3 separate regions of the Homo sapiens genome follow, and all the other regions are linked to region 3. Evidence: fine-mapped expression QTL. A gene starts in region 3. Each other region holds a variant in brackets. All regions are shown on one strand. Distances are between the middles of the regions. Region 1 has its middle 19 kb from the start of LINC00462. Region 2 overlaps RCBTB2 (RCC1 and BTB domain containing protein 2). Region 3 holds the start of RCBTB2 (RCC1 and BTB domain containing protein 2).

Region 1 (2,766 bases), 29 kb after region 3:
TTCTATAAAAATGCTCTATTAAATAATCTATACATCTTAATTTTTATCTAAAATTCTATTTTATACCCTTTACCTGATTTCTTACACAGGGTTACAAGGTAAACTTATTTTGCAGGTTATTTCTGAAAGAGGAAAGAAAATAGTAAGATGGATAAATGTGCTACTAACTAACAAGTAGTAAAACGACCCTTCTCGGTTCTGGTGTTTTTTCAGCTGAGTCAGTTATATTAAGAATCATCTTCTCTGCCGGACTCACTCCTATAATCACAACACTTTGGGAGGCCAAGGTGAGAGACTGCTTGAGCTCAGGAGTTCAAGGTCAGCCTATGCAACATAGCAAGACCTGCAACAACAACAAAAACTAGCCAGGTGGGGTGGGGCTTACTTGTAGTCCCAGCTACTCGGGAGGCTGAGATAGGAGGATCGCTTGAGCCCAGGAGGTAGAGGCTGCGGTGAGCCATGATTGTGCCACAGCAGACAGAGTGAGACCCGAACGAAAAAAAAAAATTATCTTCTATAATTAAAAGAGTATGGTTGTAAAGAAGACACTTCCCTCGAATGTGGTCAGGCAGCATTTTCTTGGTAATTAAATGGTTAGGATCTTTTTTTCTTAGAATTCATATTGTACATGGCATCATGTGACTGAAGGGACATTTCTCTTGAAGTCTATCTGTACTATCTTTCTACAGCTGCAAAATTGTTCTCTCCACTGCACTTGTAGTAATGATGATTACTATTATTAATACTAATAGCCCCAACAACATTATGCAGTATAATGGCTCCAGTGATTATACTGAGAAGTTTGATGGAATTATTTTCCTGAGCTCATTCTAAAATTTCTTCTTGCTCAATATTATCTTGTTATTTCTGTTCATTTGTCCCTTACAATCTCCTACCTATTATTTCCCTGTAATTAGAAGCTCATGGGGGTGAGGCTTTTTCATTTTGGTTTCCTCTTCACTGCCTGGAGCACTGTGGGCACGGTTTCACTTTTGATGTTGACATCTTCAAATGGAGACTAGTGGCTTCACAAGTTAGGACAGTCACTGCATCAACCAGGACTAATTTGATAATATTCCTCAAGCTCATTATAATATTGGCTCTTTCCCAAACACCTTGATTTTTTGAGAGATTAGTACTAAGAAACCAGACTTACTCATTCCATTAAGACTTTGAAAATCCAACCCAAAATGCTCAGTCATTTTTTGTGACTCTATTTGCAGTAATATTTAATTTTTAAAATATTTAAGGTCATGATAAATTTGTCATTTACCAAGTAAACATTGATAAATATTGATATTACTATTTTTAGGTTTATTGTTATGTAGCATCTGAATCAGTGAATTTACACACTCTTAATCAGGGGAATAAAGTACACAAAAAAATTCAGCAGCAATTGCACCATTTACTGCTCTGATGTTTTTGAAAAAGGAAGTAAGTGACTGAGATACACAAAACAACCCATGCAACTTGAAGCAAATGTATCTAAACTACAGTAAAGTGACAGGAAAAATAAACTAGATGTTGCTCCTGAAAGGACCATTTTCTCTACTGGACCTGTCAAAACAGTGAACCCAATGACAGTGTTTAGAAAATGTTCACTGAAATGGA[C/T]TCACAGACCAAAAGTATACAGAAACCTGCTGTTGAAAGCTATTCTTTCAGGATGACGATGATAAATCAAAAAACAAGTCTACTGCAAATAGAAATTATGTGGACCAGTGTCTTCTTCACTGAATATCACCTTCATAGAAAATGTGATACACCCTGATTTGAGATGTTTAGTCGCTTATCTGCAGGAAGCAACACTCACCTCAGAGAAGGAAACCTCAAACCACTCGCATGAGAGTTAGCTCCCATAGAGGTAGTGAGAGCTGCCTCTGAACCACAGAAGTACTTACTCATGCAAAGTGTGGCTTCATATTTGAACCAGGGAGATTCAGGTGTGGGTTTCTGTTCTGCCATGGAGTAAACCTCTCTGCCCAAAATTGCAGACTCAAACTTGGTACAATTTCCTCAGACCAACTAAATAATACGCCTAAGCTTGGACAAAGTCTATGGGAACACCAAAAAATTTTTTAATGATTTCTTACCTGAAGGGAGAAGGAACCTAATTATAGTAGTGTCATACAGGGTAAAGGTGGACAAGGTTAATATAATACAGCAGATGTGGCTTGAAACTGGGCAGTGGAGGCTGCAGAACAAGGGCTCCTGACCATTGCAGCTGTCTAGATTAACTTAGATGTTAGGCAATGCCATTTCCCATCTCTGTCTAGAATGATAGGCCTCTTCAACCACAATGGTCTCTTTGCCTTGAATTCTTCCTATCAGATTTCTTTTTCAATGATATCTCTACTCAAGATTGCTGAAACCAAAAGCAACTGGCAGAAAACATTTTATTTCCAGCAATACTTGACTATCTCCTCTATTGGTCAAAATGGTTTCAAATGCAATCAGTTCTTCATTTAAATCAGGCCGGGCACGGTGGCTTACACCTGTAATCCCAGCACTTTGGGAGGCCGAGGCGGGTGGATCACCTGAGGTCAGGAGTTCAAGACCAGCCTGGCTAACATGGCAAAACCCTGTCTCTACTAAAATACAAAAATTAGCCGGGTGTGGTGGTGCATGCCTGTAGTCCCAGCTACTCGGGAGTCTGAGGCAAGAGAATCACTTGAATCTGGGAGGTGGAGATTGCAGTGAGCCTAGACTGCGCCACTGCACTCCAGCCTGGGCAACAGAGCAAGACTCTGTCTCAAAAAAAAAAAAAAA
Region 2 (2,766 bases), 41 kb before region 3:
GCTTTAAAGAAATCATGACTTCCAAGTCTCTGGTAAGAGAGACCCAACAGATTGGTGTTTTCTGGCTTACTGTAATGCACTCTGGGCCAAAGAATAATGCTGTAATAATTCTCTTGATTAGAACTATAACTTGAAAATCAGAATGAGGCTGACCAGATGCTTTTTGGCCCTGGAGAAGTGAGGGCAGGGTGCTGAGACCTCCAATATGCCTCAAACCCTAGGCTACTTGGCCTAGGACAAGATGCTGCTAGGTGGTGGTCAATTTTTAAAAGTTTCCTCTCCAAGCTACTGTAGGTAATTTATAAAAAATAAAAGCCCCAAATACTTTCTAAGCAATTACATATGAACATTACACACGATAGTCTTTTCTTCTTTAGACATAAATTATAGCAAATGCTGAAGATGGAAAAAATAAAAAAAATAGCAATGCTGATAGCCTTGCCAATGTACATATAAACCTACGGTACATTTTCTTTTAAGAAAAGAAAGAAACTATACTAGGAAAATGTTTATTTCATGCCTGAAGATAACTGGGCAGGCTGTTGGTACCACACCAGCAATATGATGTGTCTCTGTCCCAGGTAAGCCCTCAGTGATAAACAGGGAAAATTCACACACCCACTTGTCATCACAGCATACTATACATAAAAATGTGCTTCAATGATACATGCTGAATATCTCAGAGTCCATTTAAAATTATGTGCTGTTGCTTAAATTTTTAGAAATGACATTTTTGCCTACAGCACACAAAAGTGAAACCAGATAGAGATGCATCATCTCTTTGGCTGAAGTCTACAGAGAGGAATGGAGGAATTCATACCTACACCACACACATTAGAGTGTGTCTGGAGTTAGGTGGCTGGGCAGTTTGATGCCTCACAGATCTGGACAGCATCAGGAAAATTGCTAATTAATGGGAGAATGAAAGGACCCTAAAAAGTTATCACTTGGATCCATGCTCCTTTACTTTATTCTAGAGTGGGATCTTCCCCTAAATACTAAATTAAGGACAGGACTTGGAAAGAGTTCCTGTGATTCTAAGAATTCAATAAATTGGCATAGGGTGGTGGTACTGGTTATAGGGGAATTCTGTCCATAGAAAACAAGGCCCCCATTATTTTTCAGTTAAAGAATTGTAGTCTATTTTGAATGCTACCACTCTGTATGGCTTCATGTTCAAAATGGGGCCCTCTGTTCTGTCCTGCAGTCCTACCACATTCTCCTAGTTTGCTCATTCTCCTACAGGACTCTCATACTTCTCCCCATAAGCCTGACATCTCCCCTCTCATCCTCATCCTCAGCTGACATGACTTCCTATTTCACTGAGAACCAGAATCACTTGAAAAGAACCTCCACAAGCTCTCCCCACCACGTCTCCTTGCCTATTACAGAGAGGCCTGTGGATGCAATCTTCTCTGGATCAAAGGTCCAAGACCCTATAGAAAGCAGAGCCCTTGCTCTGTCACTAGATCCCACTGCTCCACCTACTAAGGGGCCCTGCTCTACCAACTGTCCCCTGCATCACTGGCTTGTTCCCCTTCACTGAGTCATTTGCATCATTAGACAAGCTTCCATTTCCCACATCTTAAAAAAGTAAAGATGTTTTACCTCAAATGCCCCAAAGCTCTTCCTTTTTATCTTTATAATAAAATTACCATGAAAAGCTGCCTCTATTCCCCATCTTCAGTTCCTCTACTTCCACGCTC[C/T]GATCAGACTTCCCGCCTCACTGCGCTAAAACTGCTTGCCAAGGCCCCTCCGGCGTTCTCATCGCCAAACCCACTCGTCAGTTCTCAGTCCTCGTGCAGACGTGCCAGCAGCATCTGGTGTGGTTCGGACTTCTTCCTTCCTGTTTCGCTTTCTTTCCCAGCCTGCAGGAAACGGTCTGCTGGTTTCTCTCTTCCGTTACTGCTCACTCCTCTTCAGTCTCCTTTGCTGGTGTCTCCTTATCTCCTTAACCTCTAAGCACAGAGTGCTCAGGACTTAATCTTCAAACCTGTCTCACGTCACTGCCTCATAGCTTTGACTTCAGCACATTTCTCTCTGACTTCCAGGCTTGCTTATCCAATTTGCTTATTAGACATTTCCATTTGGATGTCTAATAGACATCACATACTTCTCATATTCAAAACCAAATTTCTGATATTTCCCCCAAAATGTTGCTCCTATCTTCTATATCTCAATAGATGCCACTTTCATCCTTACAGCTGCTGAGGGACAGAACCTCCTCAGTCGTCTTTTTTTTCCTCACATCTAATCCATCCGCACATCCTGTTGGCTCTACTTTCAAAATGTATTCAAAATCTTAACCACTTTTTACCATCCCCACAGGTGATAACTTGGACCAATCCACCATCATCACTTACTGGATTATACAGCCTCCTAAGTACCCTCCTTCACACACACACACACACACACACACACACACACACTCTTCTCTCTCTCACCCTCTCTCTCTCTCCACACACACACACACACACACACACACTCTCTCTCTCTCTCTCTCTCTCTCTTCTCTTCTCTCTCTCACCCTCTCTCTCTCTCCCTACCTCCCTCCCTCCCTCCTCAACACAGCAGCCAGGAGGCAGGAGGATTACTTCAAATGCCCATCATATCTGCTCCTCTCCAAACCCTCTGATGGCCACTCACCTTGGAACTCTGATTCCTGAAACTTGCCTATGGACTCTGCAGGCCCTGCCTCCTCCCACACACGCCACTGTGCACCTCCACCGCACCATCTCCCTGCCTCATCAGCTACTTCCCTCCCCA
Region 3 (2,766 bases):
ATTGTTAGAAACTCTTCACAGTAGCCCCAGGAGTCACGAAACTGACTTAACTAAGACCCACTGTCTAGTAAGGTGTAAAACCCAGCAGGAACGCAATACTAGGAAGGTGCAAAGCCAGGAGGCTCAATAAACGTTAAACAGTGTCTGGGGGAAAGAGCAACGATCCAGAGCACTGTTTGTGAACTCAACCACTTTTATTCAGCTCTGACAAGGTAAGTCGCCAAGCGCGGTACAAAGTAGCTCCATGAAATGCGTTTTGTTATAGTCCTGGTCTCGAACTGTTGCAACATTTTATGTAATTTTTGCAAAGAACAAAAGCAAAAAGTTCATTCTAAATTAGCCTTCCAACTCAGTTCTTTCTCCGCCAAGACGGAGCACTTGGAAAGTTTTCAATGTCTGAAAACCTCTATTTCCAGGGCTGAGCAGAGCACTATGTTGCGGCTTAAGACGCTCGGCGATTTCTTCCCATCCCTCCGCAGTTCCAAAACGGCTTCGCCTAACAAAGTCAAACTTTTCGCGCTATTCCTGGACATCAGGACCAAATGTCGAAAGCATATACTGCCACTGAGTTAGTGAGCCGGGCCGGTGCCCGGGACCTGGGGTACTAGATTTATGGGACGGGAGCCTAGGGGTCGAGGCCACAGAAATGAAAACATCGGCAACATATGCAGTGCAGCGAGTGGGTTAGGAGGGAGAAACTTCAGGCAGGACGCTCCCTCGGGACCTGTGACGCCCCCCCAGCCACACCAGACGTGGGAGCTTAGGATGAGAGCGGCCTCCGAGCAGATGATCACCCTGGAACGACGCCAAACGCGACCCCTACCAGAGGACTCGCGCATGCGCAGCGCAGCCTGGGCCGGCGGCCTGGGCAGGATGTAGTCGCGAGCAGCGCACCGGGCCCACGCCAGCGGAATTGCGCATGCGCAGGGCCGCCTCTGCCTGCGGCCTGGGCTGGGTGTAGCCCCGGAACCTAGCTCTTAACTCCCGCCAGCAGTTTTACGCATGCGCGACGACGCCTAGGCCTGTGGCACGGTCGCGGCTCTAGTCCCCTGGGCCCCTCAGCTGTCTCTGGCGGGGAGGTCGGGCCGCAGGGGCGGGGAGGGGTGGCCTGCCCCAGTGGTACCTGACAGCATCCCACGTCACGGCCGCGATCCCCCTCGGCCTCCCACACCACTCCTCCACCCTCTTACCTCCTCGCAGGCCGGAGCCTTGTCCGCTCCGCCTCCTGGGTAGCGGTTACTGCACGGTCAGGGGCCCGGCGCCGCGATGAGTTGGCGCCTCCCCCTGAAACGGCCCGGCCTCGGCGGGATGCGCTCGGGTGCCCGGCCGAGACGGAAACGAAGGGAGCGCAGACAAGAGGAGGGGGCTGGCGACGGCGTCTCGCCCCTCCTCTCCTCCCTAGGCTGCCCACCGCCGCCCCTCCCCTTTCTCGCAGACGCCCCCTCCCCTCGGAGTTGACCCCCGGGAGTCTCCCATTGGGGCCGCCTCCGCTTTTCCAGGGAGTTCCTCCGTGGGTCACCCCCACCTTCTCCAGGGTTATGTTCTCGCAAATTTTGGGAATTTGTGGATACCCGACCTAGAAGGATAAGGCGTGTATGATGCTGAGAGCAACCTTTTCCACAGCCCCTCTCCTCCAGCCTGCCCCAGCTTTTCTTCTATTGCTGGCCCCTCTATCTGGGGGCTCCGATCACTTCACGTTTTCACCCCATTGCTGTGGGGCGGAAGTCTTGTAGCCCCCTGTAGTACAAATGCTGAAATAATGAGGATGTGTGCTGGGGGGTTCAGGGGGATGACCTCAGTTACCTTGGGGCCAAGGGCTTCGAAAACAGCCACCTTCTCCCCTTATGATTATATTTTGCAGTAATTTATTATATTACACTGCACTTCTGTTGGCCTTTGTAGATTTAAGTAAAATGCACCACAACTTTGCAGTGTGCAATAATTTCTTCCACTGCACTACACTTAAATTGACCTGAGTGGGTTTTGGTTAAATGCTCAACAATTAAATGTTATTAGCTATTCCTGTGAAGTAAGCTACTTGCTTTTATACTGGCTGTTTCATGAGGACACTGGTTCCTCTACAGTGTAGAGCCAAAAGTAGTAAAGCCAAAGAGAAAAACTAACATTCCAAACCACAGTGACCGTGTCAGTCTGTTTCGTCTGGCTTTTGTCATTTCTTCGGAAAAACATCATTCTAAAATGTATAACTGCCTTTCTGCTACATAGGGCAGACATTTATCTCTATTCTCTGAGCATAGCCCACTGAGCCTCAGAAGGAGGCACGCAAAATGGTACACAGGTATTTCTTGTAGAGCTCTAAATGGAAGAAAAAGTAAGTATACATTAACAGGAAGTTGCAGCGATAGTGCAGAGAGGCATCGTGTGCCTGCCCCAAGTTTCTCCACTGGTTACATCTTATCAATGAAAGAAATTTATGAGTTAAACAGGTTTGCTCTCAGAAAAAGCTCACTTCAGTGATGATAGCTGGCATTTTTTTTTTAAGCACCTATTGTGTGCCAAGAGGTTTATCTTATTTGGAGCTCACAATAATCCTGTAAGGCAAGGATTATCCTTACTTTACAGATAAGGCAACTCAGGCCCCAAGAGATTAAGTTTCTTTCATCAGCAACCATGGCAAGATCTGTTTGCCTTGCGCACTTGGTCTTTTACGCATTATGGACAGCTGAAGTTCATGCAGGCCTTACGGTGTGCTTCAGCTGAAGCCTGACAATTAGCTAACAATAAAAACATGTCTTAGTGTTTTGA

What was found.
Region 1: its variant is fine-mapped to the expression of RCBTB2 in whole blood (TOPMed, PIP above 0.99).
Region 2: its variant is fine-mapped to the expression of RCBTB2 in whole blood (TOPMed, PIP above 0.99).

The regions. Positions count from the first base shown.
Region 1 is chr13:48,560,635-48,563,400 of GRCh38, forward strand. No RefSeq gene overlaps it. Among named protein-coding and RNA genes, the nearest start is that of LINC00462, 19 kb to the right of the region's middle. RefSeq lists an enhancer at 962-1,061. The variant C/T (reference allele first, on the strand shown) is at 1,612.
Region 2 is chr13:48,490,832-48,493,597 of GRCh38, forward strand. The region is part of intron 14 of RCBTB2 (RCC1 and BTB domain containing protein 2); the gene reads right to left. Among named protein-coding and RNA genes, the nearest start is that of RCBTB2, 41 kb to the right of the region's middle. RefSeq lists an enhancer at 2,650-2,729. The variant C/T (reference allele first, on the strand shown) is at 1,707.
Region 3 is chr13:48,531,838-48,534,603 of GRCh38, forward strand. It overlaps RCBTB2 (RCC1 and BTB domain containing protein 2), which reads right to left and starts at 1,243. Exons shown (of 15, transcript NM_001268.4): 1 at 1,191-1,243. LOC124903174 (a long non-coding RNA gene) reads left to right here. Exons shown (of 2, transcript XR_007063795.1): 1 at 1-212. RefSeq lists an enhancer at 619-858 and silencers at 899-1,298, 1,409-1,458.